Linked DNA regions of Homo sapiens. The protein of the gene in region 1 purifies or fractionates together with the protein of each later gene. This does not show direct contact. Each region holds a gene or a part of one and is shown in the gene's direction. Other genes may lie near its edges. The genes, in order: SLC15A1, OMA1, APOOL and IPO11.

The links.
Region 2: the proteins of SLC15A1 (region 1) and OMA1 purify together in Homo sapiens (affinity purification with mass spectrometry; 2 studies listed by BioGRID and IntAct, with this or other methods). This does not show direct contact.
Region 3: the proteins of SLC15A1 (region 1) and APOOL purify together in Homo sapiens (affinity purification with mass spectrometry; 2 studies listed by BioGRID and IntAct, with this or other methods). This does not show direct contact.
Region 4: the proteins of SLC15A1 (region 1) and IPO11 purify together in Homo sapiens (affinity purification with mass spectrometry; 2 studies listed by BioGRID and IntAct, with this or other methods). This does not show direct contact.

Annotation. Positions count from the first base shown.
Region 1 is NC_000013.11:98,683,265-98,686,675, reverse strand, and holds the end of SLC15A1 (solute carrier family 15 member 1), read left to right. Parts: intron 1-378; coding exon 379-486; intron 487-1,760; coding exon 1,761-1,952; 3' UTR 1,953-2,875; downstream 2,876-3,411. UniProt on the Homo sapiens protein: Electrogenic proton-coupled amino-acid transporter that transports oligopeptides of 2 to 4 amino acids with a preference for dipeptides. Transports neutral and monovalently charged peptides with a proton to peptide stoichiometry of 1:1 or 2:1.
Region 2 is NC_000001.11:58,536,688-58,543,726, reverse strand, and holds part of OMA1 (metalloendopeptidase OMA1, mitochondrial precursor), read left to right. Parts: intron 1-4,416; 5' UTR 4,417-4,432; coding exon 4,433-4,932; intron 4,933-6,985; coding exon 6,986-7,039. UniProt on the Homo sapiens protein: Metalloprotease that is part of the quality control system in the inner membrane of mitochondria. Activated in response to various mitochondrial stress, leading to the proteolytic cleavage of target proteins, such as OPA1, UQCC3 and DELE1.
Region 3 is NC_000023.11:85,000,013-85,006,886, forward strand, and holds the start of APOOL (MICOS complex subunit MIC27 precursor), read left to right. Parts: upstream 1-3,864; 5' UTR 3,865-3,900; coding exon 3,901-3,915; intron 3,916-6,874. UniProt on the Homo sapiens protein: Component of the MICOS complex, a large protein complex of the mitochondrial inner membrane that plays crucial roles in the maintenance of crista junctions, inner membrane architecture, and formation of contact sites to the outer membrane.
Region 4 is NC_000005.10:62,485,752-62,492,790, forward strand, and holds part of IPO11 (importin-11), read left to right. Parts: intron 1-2,019; coding exon 2,020-2,110; intron 2,111-3,550; coding exon 3,551-3,598; intron 3,599-4,363; coding exon 4,364-4,469; intron 4,470-7,039. UniProt on the Homo sapiens protein: Functions in nuclear protein import as nuclear transport receptor. Serves as receptor for nuclear localization signals (NLS) in cargo substrates.

The DNA of each region.
Region 1 (3,411 bases):
TGGCAGGAAAGCCACAGAAGGGCAAGCTTGCAGCCCAGGGCAGCCTGCATTTGAGGGGAAGACTATGCCAGGCTGGGTGGCTTTGCTTGGAAGCTCTCCTGTAGAAATAGGATCAGCTCCTCCGTAGATGTGTCCATTTAACTAAGGGGACAGCTTTGCAAGGATGTGGAGCGTGAAACACAGGAATTCTTGTCTACTCGTCTGTGCATGTTTGGGTGTCTTGTTACTTAAGTGATGATCCTTTTTACATTGAGGCCACCTGACTTTTCGTGTGCATTGTTAGGGTGATCTGCTTCACGAAACGCCCATCGGTGAGCTGTGTTCTCCTGCTCGGAGGGTGAGACCTGGAGCAGGACTCACTTTGCTTTGCTTCCTCAGGCTCCTTCCAACATGAAGTCGGTGCTTCAGGCAGGATGGCTGCTGACCGTGGCTGTTGGCAACATCATTGTGCTCATCGTGGCAGGGGCAGGCCAGTTCAGCAAACAGGTATGGCGTGGGAGAGGAGATTGCACATACCTCTGTCTTTCCTGTTCATGGTCATCATGGTGGCCTTCCCTAGCCATCTGTGTGCTCTGTGTGGTCATCTAGGCTAATAGCTGGATTAAACTGCCAGACCAGCCAGGGCTGTTCCCAAATAGCCTTATGGCAAAGTGTCTGCTGTTTCTTCTTCTTCTTCTTTTTTTTTTTTTTTGAGACGGAGTCTCACTCTATTGCCCAGCTGGAGTGCAGTGGCGCAATCTTGGCTCACTGCAACCTCCGCCTCTCGGGTTCAAGTGATTCTTCTGCCTCAGCCTCCAGAGTAGCTGAGCCTACAGGCACCCACCACCACACCCGGCTAATGTTTGTATTTTTAGTAGAGACAGTGTTTCACCATGTTGGCCAGGATGGTCTCGATCTCTTGACCTCGCTATCTGCCCACCTTGGCCCCCCAAAGTGCTGGGAGGTGTGAGCCACTGCACCTGGCCTGATGATTCTTCTTATTCCCACTTGTTGTTAACGCAGCTGGAAATTGACAACCAAAATAGCTGGAATGGGTTAACTTGAAGTTGCCCTTATGTGTTTTACTATCAAGGGAAACATCTCTCCTAGCTTCAGTGAATGCAGCTTAGCAGCTGCAAAGCAGACACATGTTATCCTGGAACTTTCATAACACCTGAAGTTAAAGCCATCCTAGAGTTGGTTATAAATTTTCCAGCTAAAATTAAATGAGGGCTCTACTGATACTTACACTCTTTCCTTCTGCACTGTAGCATGTCTGCCTCATAAGGGAGCTGTTATCCCATCCGTTTCATGACTTCCTGCACCAGGTCCCAGCAGCAGATGTGCTAATGCTGTGTGCTTATGAGCTCCAGGTGTTTCCAAGGAGGAACGTGGGGCTCTTAACTTGCTGGAGTTCAGCATATTCATTTTTCCCTTGTGGGGACTGCTTGCTGTTCTCTTGGTCCCCATCCTTCCAGGTCCAGCCACATGTCTTAAGGCTTCAGTATTTCAGAAATTTTCTCTCATCTTCCCAAAGTCTGTTGTTTCTGTACCTTAGTGCTGTTCAAAACATGTTGTCTATATTAGCATCTATCTATCTTGGGCATTCCAGAAAAGCTGGGCTTACTGTATCTGTATTGGTTGCTTACCAATTTTCCATAATTTAATTTCAAAGCACTCTCCATCTGCATGTAGCAAGAACATGTACGCACCATATATTCATCAGTATGACCTGTTTTATTTTTGTTCTTTTTCCTGCTCCAACTCTGATTTCTTCAAAGTGGGCCGAGTACATTCTATTTGCCGCGTTGCTTCTGGTCGTCTGTGTAATTTTTGCCATCATGGCTCGGTTCTATACTTACATCAACCCAGCGGAGATCGAAGCTCAATTTGATGAGGATGAAAAGAAAAACAGACTGGAAAAGAGTAACCCATATTTCATGTCAGGGGCCAATTCACAGAAACAGATGTGAAGGTCAGGAGGCAAGTGGAGGATGGACTGGGCCCGCAGATGCCCTGACCTCTGCCCCCAGGTAGCAGGACACTCCATTGGATGGCCCCTGATGAGGAAGACTTCAGAATTGGGAACTAAACCATGAATGCTATTTTCTTTTTTCTTTTTCTTTTCTTTTTTTTTTTTTTTTTTTTTTTGAGACAGAGTTTTGCTCTTGTTGTCCAGGCTGGAGTGCAATGGCACGATCTCAGCTCACTGCAACCTCCGCCTCCCAGGTTCAAGTAATTCTCCTGCCTCAGCCTCCCGAGTGGCTGGGATTAGCGGCATGCACCACCACGCCCAGCTATTTTTGTATTTTTAGTAGAGATGGGGTTTCACCATGTTGGCCAGGATGGTCTCGATCTCTTGACCTGGTGATCTGCCCACCTCGGCCTGCCAAAGTGCTGGGATTACAGGCTTGAGCTACCGCGCCCGGCCGTGAACGCTATTTTCTAAGCAGCCAGCAGTGAATCTAAAACTCTGGAAGAAGTCTTCTGTTTGAAAGGCTTATTTAAGCCACACGTACACACACTGTCTTAGAGTACTGTGAGCCCACCCCACATTGGTCATCTTCCCTATCACACAAATGATGTTATTTTGGACTAGCTTAATTTTGAAATGGTAACAAAGTTTCCTATTCCATACTGTTCATTTCTAATACTCTTACGAAAACTATTCTAAAGGAGGCAGGAGCCAAGGCCAAAAGTGAACGTACAGGTTTGAAATGGCTGTGATAAGGACCAGCTGGTATTAACTGATAACTTTACCTTTGGGTTTTTGTTATTTTGTTTTTCTAGTCCCTACCTGTGTTTAAATTATGGATAACTCGAAAGACAGCTCAGGTGAAGGCCAGTAATGATTTTTTTGAAGTTTCAATGGTGTGAAATAAATTTCTGTTCTTAAGCCTAAGTGTTCATGTATCTCTGGGTAGGGTAAGAAATCTTTAACATCCTATCTGATTATAAAAGCAGCACCTGCTCATTAAAATTTCTTCCTGGTCCTGTTTTCCCCAGGGATGATTGATTGATTGGTTGATTGATACATAGGCAGACAAACAGATAAAGAAAGGTAGATAGGCAGATAGATAGATGATAGATAGATAGATTAGATAGATAGATGAACAGATAAAGGTAGGTAGGTAGATGATCGATAGATAGATAGACAGACAAACAGATAAAGGTAGGTAGGTAGATAGAAGATAGATAGATAGGCCGGGCACAGTGGCTCACGCCTGTAATCCCAGCACTTTGGGAGGTAGAGGCGGGTGGATCATGAGGTCAGGAGATCAAGACCATCCTGGCTAACACGGTGAAACCCCATCTCTACTAAAAATATAAAAAATTAGCTGGGTGTGGTGGCAGACGCCTGTAGTCCCAGCTACTGGGGAGGCTGAGGCAGGAGAATGGCGTGAACCTGGGAGGCGGAGCTTGCAGTGAGCT
Region 2 (7,039 bases), on another chromosome or scaffold:
GATTGCTATCTTTTAAATCTTTTAAAGATTTACAGATCATCATGTCATTTTTTAAATGATTACCTGGTATTTACCAGGGTAGGACTGTATGTTAATTGTCGGGGTAGGATTCTGTTGCCAGGGTTTGCATTTTAGAAATAATGCTTTAGCTCTAGTTTGGGGTCAAACTGTAGTGGGAGGGGTTAGTGGTGAAATAAGGCAGGGAGATTAGGTGGGTAGTGATCAACACCATAAGACCACAGAGCCCAGGAAAGGCTAGAATGAGATAAGAAGGAGGTAGAATTGACATGACTGATTTAATGTGGGCTGAGATATTTTGGATGCTAAAGTTGCTGTAGAGATAATCCAGTATTTCTGGAACTGATTAAATGTTGAAAATTGGTAAATTTGGCTTTGCAAAGTGTAGGAGGAACCCTCAGCTAGTTCCAGTAAACAACATGTATAATATTAAAATGCTGTCAATTTACAAAAACAAATGTATAACTGTTTTATACCATGTAAACGTCTTAGAGATCATTTATTTGCAGAATACAGAAACTCATTGAAGAAAGCGCATTATTTTGGGGATAAAGTAAAAGCTCATGAAGCTCAATTAAGTGTAGGAAGTACAATGGTTTCATGGGAATCAGGGAGGTCTTATTCTCTCATATTCACTCTGGCTTTGTGGTCTCTCACTTATCTTCTGTCTACACTTAATAGTCCATTGTCTTTTCTGTGGATCCACTTTTTTTTTTTTAAAAAAGCTTTTTGTTTGTAGTTCTTGCTTTCATATTGCTTTGTTTAGCCATAGCACCCGCTGTAGACCCAACTTACACATGCCCTTATATTCCTGTGCGGAATACTGTTTTATGTAAAATCTTTTCAGTATCAAATACCTACTCCTAGCTCTGTAGCTAATGGTAGGGGTTGCTAGGGATGAATGTGGCCGTCTAAGCCTGTCCCCTAAAATGAGGCTGTAAGATGCACATTTGGAAAAGGACTTGTGCTTGGGCAAGTGTCTGAAGCTTATCTACTACAGTAAATCATCAGATTTGAGGTCAAGGAAAGAAAGTGGGCTTGGGTTGTTTTTGCAGTTTGACTTCTAGAAGAAGACTTTACATTTAAACCTTAAAACACTTTCCCATTTAAAACAGTTCTTTCCATTTTTTTTTGTCTTTCTGCATCTGCCTAAATGGCATGAAAAATAATTGCTGCCTTCCTGAACTCTTCAGCTACTCATGGATGTCTTTTTAAGAATGCATACAGTATGTAGTATTTAATAACTGAATTTTATTATCCCCTAATAGTCTTACTTAGGTTCAGTTTTGTCTCCCCAACTAGATTATAACCTCCATGAGAGCAGGACTATATTCTGTGCTGCATAACTCTCATGGCCCCTAGCCAATGAAAACCTTACTAGCTACTCCAGTATGAATTGTGAAATGACTTCTAGGCTTAAATTATTTAACAATTTTTCAGCTTGGTTCAAAAAAGTAAAAACAAAGTATCTTGTTAATAATGTCAAACTATTATATATCAGCCTGGACTTTACTAATTTAAAATTGGTTGTATTTCAAAAAGGGTTAACTCAAAGTTAATGTTTTACTTAGCATGCCCTTTATTAACATTATACATTAACAGTGCAAGGGCAGGATGTATGAATTACATAAAAAATAAATTTGAGTAATTTTCAAATGGTTTGATATATAGATAATACTATTAAAACTGGTAGTCCTGGAGCATCTTTCTAGATAATATCGTATTAGCTTAGGTTGAAGTTTACATATTTTTTTCCCCAACTTTTATATGAAGATTTTGAAACATGCAGAAAAATTTAAGGAACACATATGTAACTATCACTGAGATACAATGATTGCTGATATTTTGTTTATTGACTTTATGTCCTTTGTGTGTGTACCTTTGCTGTACAATTTGAAAGTGAGTTTTATTTATCATGAACAGATCCTTCAGCAAGTATCTCAGGAATAAAATAGTCAGATAACCACAATATTATCACCTAAGAAAATAATAATTACCTAAAACAACTTGAAATTCAATTCATATTTAGATTCCCTCAATCTGGGTTTTTTTGTTTTTTGTTTTTGGTTTTTTTTTTTTTTTTTTTTTTTTTTTGACAGGTTCTCATTCTGTTGCCCACGCCGGAGTGTAGTGGCACAATTTTGGCTCACTGCAGTCTCTTGCCTCCCAGGTTCAAGTGATTCTCCTGCCTCAGCCTCCCAAGTAGCTGGGTTTACAGGCAAGCACCACTCTTTGTAATCCCTTCCCCTGCTGCTTTTTTCCTACAACTCCTCAAGCAGTCACTCATCTCTCTGTCACTATGGATTAGTTTGCATTTTTTGCAGTTTATATTATAGAGATGTAATCAGAGTATGTACTTTCTTGTGTTTTTCCTGTTTTTTTTTTTTTTTTTTTTTTTTTTTTTTTTTTTTTTTTGAGACAGAGTCTCACTCTGTTGCCCAGGCTGGAATGCAGTGGCGTCATCTCGGCTCACTGCAACCTCCGCCTCCCGGGTTCAAGCGATTCTCCTGCCTCAGCCTCCTGAGTAGCTGGGATTACAGGCAAGTGCCACCACACCTGCCTAATTTTTGTATTTTTAGTAGAGACGGGGTTTCACGCCTCGAATGCCTGACCTCAAATGATCCACCTGCCTCGGCCTCCCAAAGTGCTGGGATTACAGGCGTGAGCCACCATGCCCAGCTTTTTTTGTGTTTTTCAATGAATTTATACAGTTCACCTAAGATGTCAAGTTTAAGATTTTATCTTTCATTGATTTTAAGAAGTTATGTGCCTTGTAGTTTTTTTCCTTTGTGTTTCTTTTGTGTAGGATTTGTTAAACTTTTTGAATTTGTGGTTTTATAATTTTCATCAAGTTTGGAAAACTTTTGGCCATTATTTCAAGTGTTTTTTTTTTCTGTCTACACCTCCTCCCCGCTTTTTGGGGACTTCAGTTAGATGAATATTAGGCCACTTGAAGTTATTGCATACCTCATTGATGCCCTGTGCCTTTTTTTATTATTGTATTTTTTCTCTGTATTTCATTTTAGATGGTTTCTATTGATACGTCTTCAAAGTCACAAATCTTTATTTCTACAATGTTAATCTGCTGTTAGTCTCATCTAGTATGTTTTTCATCTTAGTTCTTACAGTTTTCTTGTCTAAAAGTTTAGGTCTTTTAAAGAAATATATTACATATCTCTACATAACATGCTCATATTTTCCTTTAGCTTCTTAAACATGTGCAGTATAGTTACAATAACTAATATCCTTATCTACTAATGCTGTTATTTGTTTATTTAGGAGTTAGTTTCCACTGATTGATATTTCTTCTAATTGTGGATCACATATCTTGCTGCTTGCATGCTTGGTGATTTTTAATTATAAATTGCACCTTGTTAAGTGTTAAATAGTTTTGTGTCCTAATACCTGTTTAGATTTTTTTTTTTTCCTGGGATGCAGTTGTTGCTTGGAAGCATTTAATCTTTTTGGGGGTTGCTTTTAATATTTGTTAGGTGGGGCCAGAGCAGCTTTCGGTCTCAGACTAATCTTTCTCTAATGTTGAGGCAAAACCCTTCTGAGTACTCTACCCACGAATGATAAGGTTTTCCACTTTGAATGGTGGGGAGGGGATAGGCAGTATACCATGCCCTGTGTGAGCCCTGTATATTATTCCCTGCAATCTTTTCAGGTGGCCCTTTCCCAGCTCCAGGGAATTTTCTTACACATATGCCCAGACAGGACTCAGCTGAATATGGGAGGGGGATTCTCTGCAGAACTCTAGAGTTATTTCTCTGTGCAGCTCTTGTCTTCTCTTGTCCTCTGTCCTGTGAGCTCTAGCAACCTTGGTTTACTTGACCTCCCAGCTTTATCTCTTCGATTTAGGGGAACCACTGGGCTCCACCTAGGTTTACCCTGTCTGCATTGTGGCCTGGAAGCACTCTCCAGGCAATAAGCTAGGACAGTTGTAGGGCTCTGTTTCCCATCTGTTAGGGATCACTGTTCTTCATTGCGTAATGTCCAGTGCATTTTATAAGTTAGATTTTACTATTCTGTATCACATGCTTCCTTCCAGTTATTGCAAACTGATAAAGTTTTACTGTTGTTTTTATCTAATCCACTTTATTGCTCAAATCATTTGCCATTAAAATACAAATGGCTCTTCCCTAACTAAAAATTAAAAATGAAATGAAAAAAATTCAAGCTTCTAAAGTAAACGTTGCATAGTAAATATCGTGGTATATATACTCTGGTTTATCTTGCTGAAAGGCGTTGCTCTAGGGGTGATGAGTTGAAACCCAAGGTAATTTAGCCTGAGATGTGTTAGAAGAACAACTGACACGCCTATTTAATAAGTGTTATAGTCCCAGTTTGGTAAGTAAATATTTTCCACAGATATTTATAGTTTTTTTTTTGTTTCAGGTAGTCAAGTGAAAAAATGAGCTTCATCTGTGGATTGCAGTCTGCTGCTAGAAACCATGTTTTCTTCCGATTTAATTCACTGTCTAACTGGAGAAAATGTAACACATTAGCATCCACCTCACGGGGCTGTCATCAAGTACAAGTTAACCATATAGTAAATAAGTATCAGGGACTGGGAGTAAATCAGTGTGACAGGTGGAGTTTTCTGCCTGGAAACTTTCATTTTTATAGTACTTTTAACAACAAAAGAACAGGAGGCCTCTCAAGTACCAAAAGTAAGGAAATTTGGAGGATTACCAGCAAATGTACTGTATGGAATGATGCTTTTTCAAGACAGCTGCTAATAAAAGAAGTTACAGCAGTCCCTAGTCTGTCAGTATTGCATCCTCTAAGCCCTGCTTCCATAAGAGCTATTAGGAATTTCCATACTTCTCCACGGTTTCAAGCTGCTCCGGTTCCTCTCTTGTTGATGATTCTTAAACCAGTACAGAAGTTATTTGCAATCATTGTAGGCAGGTAAAATGCTTTTTTAGAATAAAAACTTTTATATTAACTTTTTGCATTAATATTTTGTGCTAACGTATTAACTTTTAGAAATTAATTTTTTTATTTATAAAACTGTACTTTTAAAGAAACCTTGCCAGATCCCCTGTCTCCCCCCATTTAGCTCAAAGTGAAGTTTCTAAACAGTAGGTCCTGCCCAATTTTGTTCTGTATGATTTAATAATCTTGAAACAATTTCCTGCATACTAATTTATGGTATAGAAATATCTCTTTAAAAAGTTATTCTTACATTTTGTATAGGCATTAAAAAAATCTTATATTTATGACTACAAAATCTTAGGATATATGGATCAGAAGTGCTGGTTATCACTTATGTATAAGAAGAGTACTTACAAACATTTCTTTTTAATTTGTGGAATTTAAGGCAGCAAATCATAAAATTGAGGAACTTTGCTTATATAAGGGTGGGCTCACTCCTAGTTAACTCTTAAGTCATTAATGCTTCTTTTCTTTCTATTCTGTTCCCAACAAATCTTTGTTTTTTTCCTTGGTGATCCTTTATAATAATATTTTCACAGCTTGTAGTGCTTTAACCCTTTTTCTCTTGTTTGTTTTATGAAGATGGAAGAAAGCTAATCACTGTTTCTTCATAAAGCTTTCTTGTGTTTGATGACTGTGAAGTCCCTTCTAGCCTTCTTACTACCACATGAACCAAACCAGTTTGCTTTTGATCAAAAACCAAGAACTTCTATTTGTAACTTATTGTGTTTTTCATGATTTGGTGTTGGCACCCAAAAGCGATACAGCTGTATTGACTATTGGTTGAAGTAATACGCTCATCCCAGGTTCTTCGGATGCTCTTTCTGATTTCTGCTATGTCCTCATCCTTTTAAATTATTTATTTGTAACTTTCTTGTTTTTGTTACTATTGTTGATCACCTAAAATTTTTCATTTAGAATATGTCTTTCATACATTTTAAATAAAGGATAATGTCATGTAAAGTTTTAAATAGGAAATAAGTATACTCGATAGTTTGATTTATGTCCCTTTAAATGGACACACTTTGTGTAAAGGCATTGGGGTGTGTCACTTCACAAAGAGAACTTTAAGAATTTGTAAAATAAATTTTTGTCAAGAGAATGATGTATATATGGTAAATTTTTGTTGTGATTTTACAGATCAACTCATAAGGAAAATTTTTGTCCCAGTATTGAAAACATTGCTTGTTGTCAAAATGTTTCTGAACACTGCTAAGTGGCAGAGAGTATTGTTGCCTGGTAGAAATTGGACCTTCTCAGATGTTATCTATAAAATCTCCCACTTTCTTATGAATACCTAGGATCTTGTTATCTCTCCTTTTTCACGTTGTAAAGAGGATAGTGGAGTTTCTGCTACTGAGCACTATTTATTTCCAAAATGAATGCTGAGGCAGTTTCCCTTGTACCTTGTGGAATCACTGGCAAATTGTGTTGGAGGTCTGAGGAGCAGTGGGAAAAGTAGTGGTTCCAGGTATAGATTTATTGTACTGTAACCTCTTACATAATTATTTAGGCATTTATCCCTATTAAGTGGCTAAGTGGTCAGACTCTGGAATGTCATTGCCTTCATTGCTTGGTTTTCCTTTTATTACCTCAGTGGCCATGGACAAGTTACCTAACAATTTTATCTTCTGTAACAGGGTTATTATGAAGATTAAATGAGATGGTATATATATATATACAGAGAGAGAGAGAGAGAGAGAGAATTTTGCATGTACTAGATAGTAATAAATATTAACCAGTGGTAGTTATAGTAAACTAGCATCTCATTTAGTGTTTATCCTTAAAATAGCTGAAGAAGAAAATTTCGATGAGTATTAGAATTTTTTAACTGTAACTTTACATCATTGATTATTTTTTCATCATTTAGCTAAGAATTTTATTAATTGGAAAAGCGATGTATTCAGCGAAATACATCATACAAATTCAGGTATTTGAGGACGTAAAATTCTAGTGTATGCATTTGAGCTTTAGTGATATGTGCTGGAATGATTTTCAGAACTTTGAATTTTTCTTTTTGCTTTAGGGGCATAAGGAAATGGTGGCAGGCACTTCCTCCTAACAAGAAGGAAGTAGTTAA
Region 3 (6,874 bases), on another chromosome or scaffold:
TCCATTGATTTATTCTTGATTGTTCATATAGGAAAAGATGAGTGTAAGGAAATTATGAATTTTTTTCTATTTTTGGATTGAAAAAGTTAATATTGTTTTTATTTATTTACTTTTTTAAAAACTTTTATTTTAGGTTCTTGGGTACATGTGCAGGTTTGTTATATAGGTAAAATTGTGTTATAGGGGTTTGTTGTACAGATTATTTCATCACCCAGGTACTAAGCCTAGCACCAAATAGTTATTTTTTCTGACCCTCTCCCTCCTCCCACCCTCTACCCTCAAGTGGGCCCCAATGTCTGTTGTTCCCCTCTTTATGTTCACATGCTCTCATCATTTGGCTCCCGCTTATAAGTGAGAGCATGTGATATTTGGTTTTCTGTTCCTGCATTAGTTTAAAATAAAGGCCTCCAGCTCCATCTATGTTGCTTCAAAGGACATGATATCATTCTTTTTTTGGCTGTGTAGTATTTCATGGCATATATGTACCACATTTTCTTTACCCAGTCTATAGTGATTGGGCATTTACGTTGATTCCATGTCTGTTATTGGGAATAGTGCTGCAATAAACATATGTGTGTATGTGTCTTCATGATAGAACCATTTACATTCTTTTGTGTATTTACTCGGTAATGGGATTGCTCAGTTGAATGGTATTTCTGTTTCTAGCTCTTTGAGGAATTGCCACACTGCTTTCTATAATCGTTGAACTAATTTACACTCCCACCAACAGTGTATTAGTGTTCCCTTTTCTCTGCAACCTCACCAGCATCTGTTATTTTTTTGACTTTTTAATAATAGCCATTCTGACTGGTGTGAGATGGTATCTCATTGTGATTTTGATTTACATTTCTCTAATGATCACTGATATTTAACTTTTTTTCATATGCTTGTTGGCCGCATGTATATCTCCTTTTGAGAAGTGTCTGTTCATGTCCTTTGCCCACTTTTTAATGGGGTTGTTTGATTTTCTTGTAAATTTGTTTAAATTCCTTACAGAAGCTGGATATTATTTTCTCCCATTCTGTAGGCTATCTGTTTATTGATGGTTTCTTTTGCTGTGCAGAAGCTCTTTAGTTTAATTAGATCCCATTTGTCAGTTTTTGCTTTTGTTGCAATGATTTTGGTGTCTTTGTCATGAAATCTTTGCTAGTTCCTGTGTCCAGAATGGCATTGCCTAGGTTGTCTTTCAGGGTTTTTATAGTTTTGAGTTTTACATTTAAGTCTTTAATCTATCTTGAGTTAATTTTTTATTATAGTATAAGGAAGGGGTCCAGTTTCAGTCTTCTGCCTATGGCTCACCAGTTTTCCCAGCACCATTTATTGAATAGGGAGTCCATTATTGGGTATATACCCAAAGGAATATAAGTCATTCTACTATAAAGACACATGCATGGGTCTGCTCATTACAGCACTATTCTCACTAGCAAAGACATTGACTCAACCTAAATGCCCATCAACAGTAGACTGGATAAAGAAAATGTGATACATATATACCATGGAATACTATGCAGCCATCAAAAACATAAAAAAGAATAAGATCATATCCTTGGCAGCACCATGGGTGGAGCTGGAAGCCATTATCCTCAGTGAACTAGTGCAGGAACAGAAAACCAAATACTGCAGGTTCTGACTTATAAGTGGGAACTAAATGGTGAGTATGCATAGACATAAAGATGGAAACAATAGACACTGGGGCCTACTTGACGGTGGAAGGTGGAAGGAATGTGAGGATTGAAAAACTACCTATCAAGTGCTATGCTTATTACCTGGGTGAGGAAATAATCTGTATGTCAAACCCACTTGACATGCAATTTTCCTGTATAACAAACCGGCACATGTACCCAAACCCAAAATAAAAGTTAAAGTTGGAAAAGAAGCAACAACAACAACTACAACAACAAAACATGGGTGTTATTGAAATTCCTGAAATTTTTGGGAAATAAGATTGTTATAAATTTATTCTAAGCTTATTCACAATTTTAAGACTTTTCTTATTTGCCTGTTGATTATTGTGAAATAAACCTGACTGATATTAAAATCAATAAAAAGTGTGCATCAATCAGTTATGAACAAAGTTAGCTTGACAAATCTAGGTATACCATTTATTTAATATGCAGAAATGTTAAATTTGGATGAAATTATTGACAAATACACAGAGGTTAAGGCTCAAAAACAGAAACTGTAATATTATTATTCATTCCTGTGGCAGACCACTATGTAGATATAAGTATTTTTCCTTTGAAAAATACATTAATGCAATTAAAACACCTTGATCCATTTTTTTCCTTTTTTGGTTCTGTACTATTTATTTTGCATTTTATTTTTATATTGGCATATATATGTATGTATATGTTTATATTAAGTTCAATAAAAGAAAATAGTCACTCAATGTTTCTTTTGTAGCCAGTATTATTAGTTTCATTTCATCATTATTTCTTAAAATAATTTTGTCATTTACAGGACAGTTCTGTTAAAAAGGATCTGTTTTGGGTATGAAATGTGATAGGTATCAACTAATGCCTAGTATATAGTTTGCACATAATAAATATTTGTTGATTGAATGAATGAATACATGAATTAATATTGGGACTGTTAATGGGCATATTATGAGCATCTTCTTTCCTCAGAATCCTTCAGGGAGGCCTACAGCAGACCTTGCTCCTGTTGTGAATATTGCAATATACCCTTAGTATATTCTCCTGATAGCACCAAAATCATCCTTTAAAAATGTAAATTAGATCACATCACACCTTTGCTCAAAATCCTCCAATGATTTCCCATCTTATTCAGCATAAAATCCAAATTTATTTTGGCGGCACGAAAGCCCCTACACTGTGTTACTTCGCTACCTCTGAAATTATTGCTCCAGCCTCACTGGACTTTTTCATTGCTGTTCCTTCCGTATGCAACCCTCTTCTCTAAATTCCTCCAGGACTTTTATCAAATGAGCTTATCAGAGTCTTTCTCTCATTGATATAAACCAGTAAACTCCCACCTCATTCCCATACTGTTTTATTTTCCTTCATAGCATTTGTCTCTTTTTTAAAATTTATTATTTATTTTTATTTATTTATTTATTTTTTTGAGACGGAGTCTCGCTCTGTCGCCCAGGCTGAAGTGCAGTGGCGCGATCTCCGCTTACTGCAAGCTCCGCCTCCCGGGTTCACGCCAGTCTCCTGCCTCAGCCTCCCGAGTAGCTGGGACTGCAGGCGCCCGCTACTACGCCCGGCTAATTTTTTTTGTACTTTTAGTAGAGACGGAGTTTCACCGTGTTAGCCAGGATGGTCTCGATCTCCTGACCTCGTGATCCGCCCGTCTCGGCCTCCCAAAGTGCCAGGATTACAGGCGTGAGCCACCGCGCCGGCCTCATTTGTCTCTTTTACTCCTGTAATCATAAGCTCTGTGAGGAAGCCACTATGTTTTGTCTATGCCCCGAACAACTGCCCGGCACAGAGTATGCTCTCCGTGACTTAGTTTTAGAATGAATGAACTTACCCATGTTTCGCAGAGGTAATAAGTTGTTTTTCTTACTATATAATTAATTATTAAAGCAGCTACATTTGGGTATTAAGTCCTTATCTGGACATATCACATATGCCCGAAACAAAATAATTAAAAGTTCTGCACCCAGGAAAATAACTCCCAACTGGACTATTGATAATGTTCTGGAAGGCTTTATCTGGGACCGGGAGGGTCAACCACAGGGGTGAACAGTTTCTCCAGAAGACAGCTGACCGAAACCGCAGCAGTTGCCAAGGCGGCTGGAGGAGGGCGGAGAAAAGGCGGTAACTGGCAGGCAAGGGGCGTAACGGGGTGGGGCTGTCCTAAGGGAAGCCTAGTCGAACTGATTTGTCCCTCTCTGCTCTCCGTCTGAAAACCTTGGCCGAAAGGGTTGTAGACATGGCGGCCATCAGGGTAAGCGAAAACCAACTTGCTTAATTTCTGTGGGTGCCGATAGCATCCCGGTAACTGTAAAAGGGATCCTACTAACTTCTGAAGGAGCCCTGAAACAAGGGGCAGGGTGGAGGTGGGTTTTGAGATAATTGCAATCTTTATCGTTTGAAGCCTCAAGACACCTGCCTTTCCCCATTAGGGTTTTATCAGCCTGGGACGCTGCTCCCTCAATCCCCTGTGGTTGTCGATTTACACAGTGGCACAGTACAAAACTGGGAAACGGCTGGGTGAAAATGGCTGGCCAGGCGACGAGCCGCAGTAGACGTTTCGGTCTTCAGCTGCAATAAAGAGAAAAATATATATATAAACTTGGCATTTGTCTCGGCGCACAGGGCAAGGCCACATGACCCTATGGAAGGACTTTGTTGAAACATTTGGGGTGAAACTGACCAGGATAGAGAGGTCCCATAGTCTTTCAGCAGTGCGCTGGTTTACACATAGTGTTGTTGCTTTCTGTGCTCGAATAACCTGTTCCTTTCGAGTTTTACGCTTGGGAAAGGTGCCTTTACTTGGGAGTCCGTGTACAGTGAGTGACTCAGCTGGCAGCTTGCTGCAGTTCCCTAAGTAGTGTTTAATAATGGTAGTCTACAGATATTTACGTAGCGGGTTTTAATTGTAAAATATTCTGTTAGGCTTGCAGGAGATACAGTATGAATAATTCAGTTCCGCTGAAGTTTTAAGTCGGCAGCGTCTACAGTTCTGGTTCTCATACTTCATCTGAGTTATTTGAACAACCTCCTACCTGAACTTGCCACCTCAAGCCTGGCTCTCATGTAATCTGTTTTCCTCTGTGTTGCCAGAGTACATCTACCAAAATGCAAATTTGATTTTTGCCTCCCCCCGCATTTAAAAAATTTTATGGGCATGTCATCATCTCCCCTCTGGGGTCAGGCCATACTCTTATGTCTAGAACATCTGATTTTACCTAGACTTTCCAGCCTCATCTCTTGTCACTCAGGAACCCTCCTCCTGTCGATACTGAGCTGCTTGCTTGACCCCGCCATGCTTTTTTACGTGCTCTTTCTCTGGGCCTAAAGTGCCTTTTCCCATGCTTATCTAGTTGTATTTATAGTTCATTCATTCATTCAGCAGCTATTTGTGTACAGCCTCCCCATATGCAAAACACAAAAATGCCTTGTTTAATAGTGTCCTTGATCTCCCCAGTCTATTTTATTTTATTTTATTTTTTATTTTTGAGACGGAGTCTCTCTCTGTCTCCCAGGCTTGAGTGCAGTGGCGCGATCTCAGCTCACTGCAACCTCCACCTCCCGGGTTCAGGCGATTCTCCTGCCTCAGTCTCCTGAGTAGCTGGGACTACAGGCGCATGCCAACCATGCCCGGCTAAATTTTTTTATTTTTATTTTTTAGTAGAGACGGGGTTTCACCATGTTGGTCACGCTGGTCTCGAACTCCTGACCTCGTGATTCACCCCCCCCCCCCCCCGGGCCTCCCAAAGTACTGGGATTACAGGCGTGAGCCACCACGCCCGGTCCTCGCCAGTCTATTTTAATAACTCTTGTTTGTGCTCCCAGAGGACTCTGGGCACACTCTTAACCAAGCATTTATTCCACTGCACATATAGACTACTTACTTGTCTGTTCTAGCTACCTAAACTATAAGCTCCTTGAAGACAGTAATTATATTAACCTTTGTATCCGTAGTACCTAGCACAGGTCTGATGTATATTAGGTAGTCAACATGTTCTACATGAATAAAGTGCCAGGCAATGAGGACAGAAGAGATTAAGTGGTGGAGATATAACACATATAACACAAATGACTGTGATTCAGAGTAAGGGGAGTTTCTTACCTGAAGAGAAGTACAAAGTGCTCTGACGCTCAAAAGGAGAGAGCTCACACTTGGTTTGAAGAGAGTAAAAAGAGGCTTCATGGAGAAGGTGCAGAGACAGAAGGAATGGTCAGTGGCAAAAAGCAAACCAGAATAGTGTGTTTTCATTGAGAAGAAGAGAGTTGAACAGTCCTTTGATTTCACCATTAATAAGTTGCTGCTGTTATCATTTATTAAGTGCTTACTCCAGGCCAGGCACTATGCTAAAACACGTTACATGTGTTAATTCACTAATTCTCAAGACAACTTTATGTGGTGGGTATTATTACCATTTTACACATGAAAATTAAGGTTTAGAGAAGTCAGATTATTCAAAACCATGCTAATAAGAGCTGAAGTGAGCTAAAGAGATAAATAGAGTGGTAGAGGAACAACCAAGATTGTATGGGGTTAAGAAAAGAATAAGGGATGGAGAACTGGCATTCATTTAGCACCCACTTTGGCCAGATGATTTACATATATTATTTTAGTTTAATCCTCTTGATGACCCTAAGAAATGGGTAATATATCCATTTTACAGATGGAAAAACGGAGGCTTAGAAAAACTGCTTGCTCCAGGTCATACAACCACTAAGTGGAAGAACTAGGTTCAAACAGTATATTTATCTCCAAAGTCTTTCCACTCCTCCTTGCTTCCTCTGGAAAGGAGTTATACATTACTCTTTAGAGAAGTTTGGTGGTGAAAAGAAGGAACAAAATCTTGGAATGAGGGTAGCAAATTCCAGAAAAGGTGTCTTTTAATTAAAAAAAAAAAAAACTAAAAACAAAACAGGAGACAGAAGACTTGAGCTACTTTGGAGACAAGGGAAAATGTACCAGGAGGTATCTAGAGGGAAAGATAATAGTATTTACAGCTATTGTGTTATTGAATATTGACTACGTGCTAGGAATTTTGCTAAGCACTTTATGTGGATTCTCTCATTTATGTTTCACATTGGCCCTATGAGTAGGAATTTATATTAATCACTTTTTACAGGTAGGGAAACAGAAGCTTAAAAAGGTCAAGTAACTCCAAGGTCACACAGGAGTAAAGTGGTAGAGCTGGATCTGAAATCACATGGTATGAGTCCTG
Region 4 (7,039 bases), on another chromosome or scaffold:
AGGCAGGAGGATTGTTTGAGCCCAGGAGGTTGAGGCTGCCGTGTGCCATGATGATGCCACTGCGTTCTAGCCTGGATTACAAAGCAAAACCCGTCTCTTAAAAAAAAAAAAAAAAAAATTAAAGATTCCCAACATTAAGTCAGACAGATAAGAAACTGTTTATAAGAAACTAAGAACTATATTCATATTAAATTATGACGTTTAATCTGAGTTTTTTTTCTTTTTTCTTTTTCTTTTTTTTTTTTTTTGAGACAGAATCTCACTCTGTTGCCCAGGCTGGAGTGCACTGGTGCATCTCGGCTCACTGCAAGCTCCGCCCCCTGGGTTCATGCCATTCTCCTGCCTCAGCCTCCCGAGTAGCTGGGAATACAGGCGCCCGCCACCACGCCCAGCTAATTTTTTGTTTATTTAGTAGAGACGGGGTTTCATCTTGTTAGCCAGGTTGGTCTCGATCTCCTGACCTCGTGAGCCACCCGCCTCGGCCTCCCTAAGTGCTGGGATTACAGGCGTGAGCCACTGTGCCTGGCCTTTTCTTTTGTTTAACTTGGGGTCGGAAAACAAATTTTTTCTTCATCTTTTAGTACATTGCTTGGGAAATAATTGTCATTACACAAATAGAAAATGTTTGTCAAACTGAAAGCTGCCATTCTTAAGCTAGAATTTTTTCCTTCTATATATTTCATTAGTAAAGTTTCTTTTGGTATGTTATTTCTCTTACCACTTCATGTGATTCTCAGAGACTAGCCCATTGCTTTCAGTTATAGGATACTTTTACAACGCATTTATTAATATGACAAATGTTTTGCCGTTACCAGATGTGATGTTTGAGCTCTTCTTTTTAAGATTTGCACTTACATAATTTACATAATTAGCTATTTGTCTTCTAAAAATGTTATCTTTAATGTTTTTAGATTCATAAACATACAGTTGTTAACCAGAGAGATTACTGGTGATTTTAAAACTTTAAAAAATTTCATTCCTTTAATTTTTAAAAGTTTCTTTTATGGAGAAGTTTAAACATATTAAAAAATAGAATAATATAATGAGCCCTTCATGATAAGCTAGTTTATTAGTTATCAACTCATGGCTACTTTAGCTTCCTGTAAACATCTCCCAGTGTTGATGGTTATCTGAGATGACACATCCTCTGACCATATTTCAGTGTGTATATTTATAATGTTCCTTTTAAAACACCACACAATACCTTAAAAATTTAATTAAAAAATTTAAATATTGTGAACGATCTAGTGATTAAATTCCTTTTTAAAATTTAAATAAAAAATTATTTTAAAAAATTTTTTGTGGGTACATAGTAGGTGTACATATTTATGGGGTACATGAGATGTTTTGATACCAGCATGCAATGTGAAATGATTCAGTACTTTTAAGAACCAAACAAATCATTTTTTTAAATGTAGCTAATGCTAATTTCTGTTACCGCTTGTGTTTGTTAAGAGAAAGGCTACTTTATTTGGCAAATTGGAGTTCCTGTTTTTGCTTATTATATCATTGCTAAGAAAATACATAATAGCTACTCGGGAGGCTGAAGCAGGGGAATCGCTTGAACCTGGGAGGTGGAGGTTGCAGTGAGCCGAAATCACACCACTGCACTCCAGCCTGGTGACAGAGTGAGACTGTGTCTCAAAAAAAAAAGAATCTTGGGTAGTCAGCCATTTATAGTACTGAGCTATAAATGAGTGGCTACAGAATGCTTTTTAAATTTAAGGTATGATTAATTTAAAATGTACACTTTGCTTGCCATAGTTTTAAGTTTTTGAATGCGTAATGACAAATAATTGAAATGAAATCAACTTTCTTTTATTAATTATAATTCGATTTTGTTTTCCTTTGTGTTGGTTATAAAAAAATGGTAACCTTACTTTTTTTTTTTAACAAATCAAAAGTTGGAAACATTTTCAAAGTTTTAGAATTTTAAGATTAAGTATTTGCTTTATTAAAGAATTAGTCAATATAGTATGCAACTGTTTTGATGAGAAATTTGTATTTTTCCCTCTCCAGCCATGCACTGAAGTATTATTTATAGATATATTCCATGAATATAATCAGACTCTTACTCCTGTACTTCTAGAAATGATGCAAACACTTCAAGGTAAGGCATATTTTGTGATTAACTTTGAGTTAATCTCTTTAACGTTTAGTTAAGAAATAGTCTGAGTGCCTACAATGCATACTGTACTGTTTCCTGGGTCATATAATAAATATGAATTTGAGAAAAACAATTTTAAAACTTATTATCTTCCAAGGGGGTGGCATTTGAGATAGGCCTTGAATTATAGTTTGGACGATGATAAATTTTCCTGTAGTAAATACAATAGAAGCAAAAGCAAAACAGTAGTCATACTGCTTGCAGAAAGTCTATCTGGAGCGTGTTGTGAGAAATAGTGAGAAAAGGTTAAAATAGTGTTAGCCTCTCTTAGAATGGTGGCAGTGGGAATGGAAATAATTGATTATGGATTTGAGAGAAAATGATGATGTAAATTTTTGACACTTGGTCATTACACTTTGTACACAAGTAACTAATTATCTGCCTATTAACTAACATTGATTTATGATTTCTGTCTTTTCTGCTAGACTGTAAGTCCTAGGGGCATTGATCACGTCTGTTTTGTTTATATTTTATTCCCAGTGCTGGGCATATTCAGTAACTATTGTTACTTGATTGACTTTTAGCAACCGATTGAATGTGCTAGGCAAGGAAAAGTGATCAAAGATGATCCTAAACTTTTGAGCCTTAATGACAAGGAAACAGTTACCTCATTAGAAGTGGTAGGAGATAGAGATATACTTTCGGAGTGCATGTATGTAAGGAGCCTTGGGAAAAGAAAAGAGGATCTTAAGGACAGAACCTGAGATTTTCACCTATAGGGATATGAGTAAATAAAAGCCTTGTAAAAATGCCAGGTGTAGTGGTGTATCCTAGAGAAGAGCATGTTGTCAGAATGAGTGTTGGCCAGGCATGGTGACTCACGCCTGTAATTCCAGCACTTTGGGAGGCTGAGGTGGGCAGATCACTTGAGCCCAGGAGTCCCAGACCAGCCTGGACAACATGGCAAAAACCTGTCGCTACAAAAATTAGGAAAATTAGCTGGGCCTGGTGGTTAGTACCTGTAGTCCTAGCTATTCAGAAGGCTGAGGTTGGAGGATCATTTGAGCGCAGGAGGATGAGGCTGCAGTGAACTGAGAAAACCTCACTCCACTGTACTCCAGCCTGGGTGACAAAGCAAGACCTTGTCTCAAAAAAAATAATTTTGTGGTATATAGCACATTAGCATTTTGTGGTGTATATTTTCTAGAATATTGCTTGTCATAACATTTTTCAAATATGCTATAATGGTTTTTAATCCTGTGTTCTCTAATGATAATCATAAAACTTAGACTTTCCCTTTGTACTTGTGTCCATTTTTGACACCATGAAATGTGTTATACTTAATTGAATTGGGAAACTAACAAATTGTGTTTAAATATAAATTTTTTAAAAAACTAGTTTTATTTGCTTTTACTGATACCTATTTATATATATATTTTTTAGGACCCACAAATGTGGAAGATATGAATGCACTGTTAATCAAAGATGCTGGTATGTTAAACTTAAGTGATTTAGAAGCATTTATTTATTCAGTAGATGGAGAGTCTGTTTTGTGGTAGATTTTGTGCTGAGGGTGTTGAGATACAAGAGTAACTAAAATACAGGAACAATCTGATTGGGGAGATAACCAAGTAAACAGATAATGTATTATAATAATACTATACAGGATAGTTAATGCTAAAGTAGGTGATGATCACCAGATAGTTTGGTGTGTCTAAGGAAAGATTCCCAAAGAAGTGTAATGGAAGAACACAAGGATAAGTAGGAGTTACACGTGTGAGGAGGTGGTGATGGAAAGAGGGTGTTGCATTCCAGGGAGATGGAGCAATAAGTACAAAGACTTGAAGGAAAGAGGAGGAAGCACAGTTAGAATTTGAATTGTGACTATTTTGGTTTAACTGGAACATTGGGGTTAAAGGTTGAGTTGAGGCTGGAGAGAGTTAAGTAGGGACCAGATCATAAAATATTACATCCATTTTAGAAGCAGGCATTATTTTATAATTTTTATAGTTGGACTTAAATATTTTAGAATGAATTGAATTATCTGTTTGAAAGTAGTAAGGAATATTTAGGAAAAACATGAAGTAAAATAGTGTTTCTAAAATAAATTATTTCTTCTACTTAAATTATTTCTACTTAAATAATTTCCCTGATTAGCATATTGTGTGTTTCCTTTAATTAACATATGTTTCATACACTCATTTGCAGATCTGATATCTGAAACCTTTAATTTTTTTTCTTAAATTTTCTTCTCAGTGTATAATGCTGTTGGATTAGCTGCTTATGAGCTCTTTGACAGTGTTGATTTTGATCAGTGGTTTAAAAACCAGCTTCTTCCAGAATTACAAGTCATTCACAATAGGCAAGTATAAAATTTTATATTTATTATACACTTACTTTACCTTATTTATTTTATTAATGAAGACAGGAAGGCATTAAAATGGCTTACAATTTAAAAAATGCAATCGTATAAGTTAGGTAATGTCTTATGTGGAAAGGAATAAGAATTTTGACATCTAGGAAGTATTTGATATATCAGGTAGTTTGCAGGAGAAAAGGAGGACTTTATGCAAAGATGAGGGAGGATGGAGGTCTCTGAGTTCAAGAAACTATGCCTAAGAAAAAGACAGTTCGAAACTTAGCAGGATGTATGCCTAGTGTCAGAAGTAGCCTAATCAAAGTAACATCTGTGAAAGATGAATGTCTTGGGATCACATAATGCATACTGCAAGTCTCTGGGGAGACGGTAGAGTAGGATATAGAGACATCATGGCAAAAATATTTGAATACCCTTTCTAAGTTCTAATTGAGGTACCTAATTAAATAGTACAGATTCATATTACATTTAGTAATATGAATTATGAAATGAATTAATTTAGTACATTTAATAGCACATTTGCCCAATTCTATTTTTTTTGAAATAGTCTCATTTTGTCACCCAGCCTGGAGTGCAGTGGTGCAATCTCAGCTCACTGCAACCTCCACCTCCCAGGTCCAAGCGATTCTTGTGCCTCAGTCTCCTGAGTAGCAGGGATTACAGGCGCATGCCACCACACCTGGCCAGCCCAATTCTTACGTTTTATATACATTTAAGCACTTGTCTACTTAAATTTTAGGTATTGAATGCATAAAATGAAAGGAAAAACCTCTTTCATAGTTTATAAAATTATTTCTTAGTTTAAAATTGGAGAATTTGAAAAAATTCTAAGGGGCTTTTTTCTTAATTTGAAGGATACACTTCTACTGATTCACTTCAGTATACCTGGGGCCTATCAGAATACTTAGCATATAGTCATAGATAGTTAATATTTGTTGACTAAACTAATGAATGCATAGGTCACATTTAGAGCCACAGAATTTGTAGAGCTGGAGATACTCTAAAAGTAATTCTTAACAGTAAGTAGCTGTTTATCTCTTCAGTTATTCAATCATTTATTCAGTTAACATATATTTTTAACACTTGGAATTTGCCATGTCCTATAGGCGGTGTTAAATAAAATAGACTCTGACTTAGTCTCAGGGAGCTAGTGAGCCTTTGATGGAGAGAAAGCTTTCATTGGCGAAACAAATGTGCAGTTTAGTTGTCCTTAAACCCTAGAGGCTATTTAGTGTAAGACCTTCACTGTCCAGTGCAGAAGCTCCCTACGTGTAGCTATTGAGCACTTGAAATGTGCTTAGTGCAACTGAGGCAACAACTTTCCAATTTTAATTAATTTAAATTTAAAATTTAAAGCCATGTAAAATATTTATTGATTACATGTTGAAATGATATTTTGGATATATTGGGATATGTAAAAATATTAATAAGTTTTTTTTTTTTTTTTTGAGATGGAGTCTTGCTCTGTTGCCCAGGCTGTAGTGCAGTGGCGCGATCTCGACTCACTGCAAGCTCTGCCTCCCGGGTTCATGCCGTTCTCCTGCCTCAGCCTCCCCAGTAGCTGGGACTACAGGTGCCCGCCACCATGCCCGGCTAATTTTTTTGTATTTTTTTTTAGTAGAGACGAGGTTTCACTGTGTTAGCCAGGATGATCTCGATCTCCTGACCTCGTGATCTGCCCGCCTTGGCCTCCCAAAGAATAAGATTTTGTTTCTTTTCTCTTATAATGTGGGTACTAAAAAATTAAAATAACATATGTGGCCTGCATTATATTTCTAATGGACAAAGCTGATGTAGACCAGTGTTTCTCAAACTTTAATGTACATATGAGTCACCTGGTAATCTTGTTAAAGTTTAGGTTTTGACTTAGTAGGTCTGGGAAAAATCAAGCAATGCACACATTAAATAGCAAAGTGATCTATACTTTTACTTCTGTTTGGATGTGTCTATGAGTTTGGAATTTTACCTTTCTGAGTTTCATATTCTTTATCTGGAACAGAGTCTAATATGGTCTTAGTCCCAAAATTGATGGTTCTTTGGTGCTTTTACCTCACTCTACACAAGTTGTTACTTCTGCCTCTGTCACTTGGTTCAAACAGTTTCTGTCCCTTGAAATGACATTTTTCCACCCTTTGGCTCCAATATTGTTTATCTCAAAGACTTGCTCAGATTCCGTCTGTCTCTGCCCATTTCTTCTCTTCCTTTTCTAAAGTCCTAGTACACTACTTTGTGTTTTTAAATTCCTTTAGGTGTGTTATAAACTTCTTGGGGGCAGGGAATACTTACATACTTTTTTTTGTAACTTTATTTATGTTATTTAATTTTTGAGATGGGGTCTCACTTTGTCACCCAGGCTAGAGTGCAGTGCCATGATGTTGGCCCACTGCAATCTCTGCTTCCTGGGCTCAAGTGATCCTCCCACCTCTGCCTCCTGAGCAGCTGGGACCACGATGTGTGCCACCATGCCCAGCTATTTTTGTGTAGTTTTGGTAGGGTTTTATCATATTGGCCAGGCTGGTCTCAAACTCCTGAGCTCAAGCCATCTGCCCACCTCA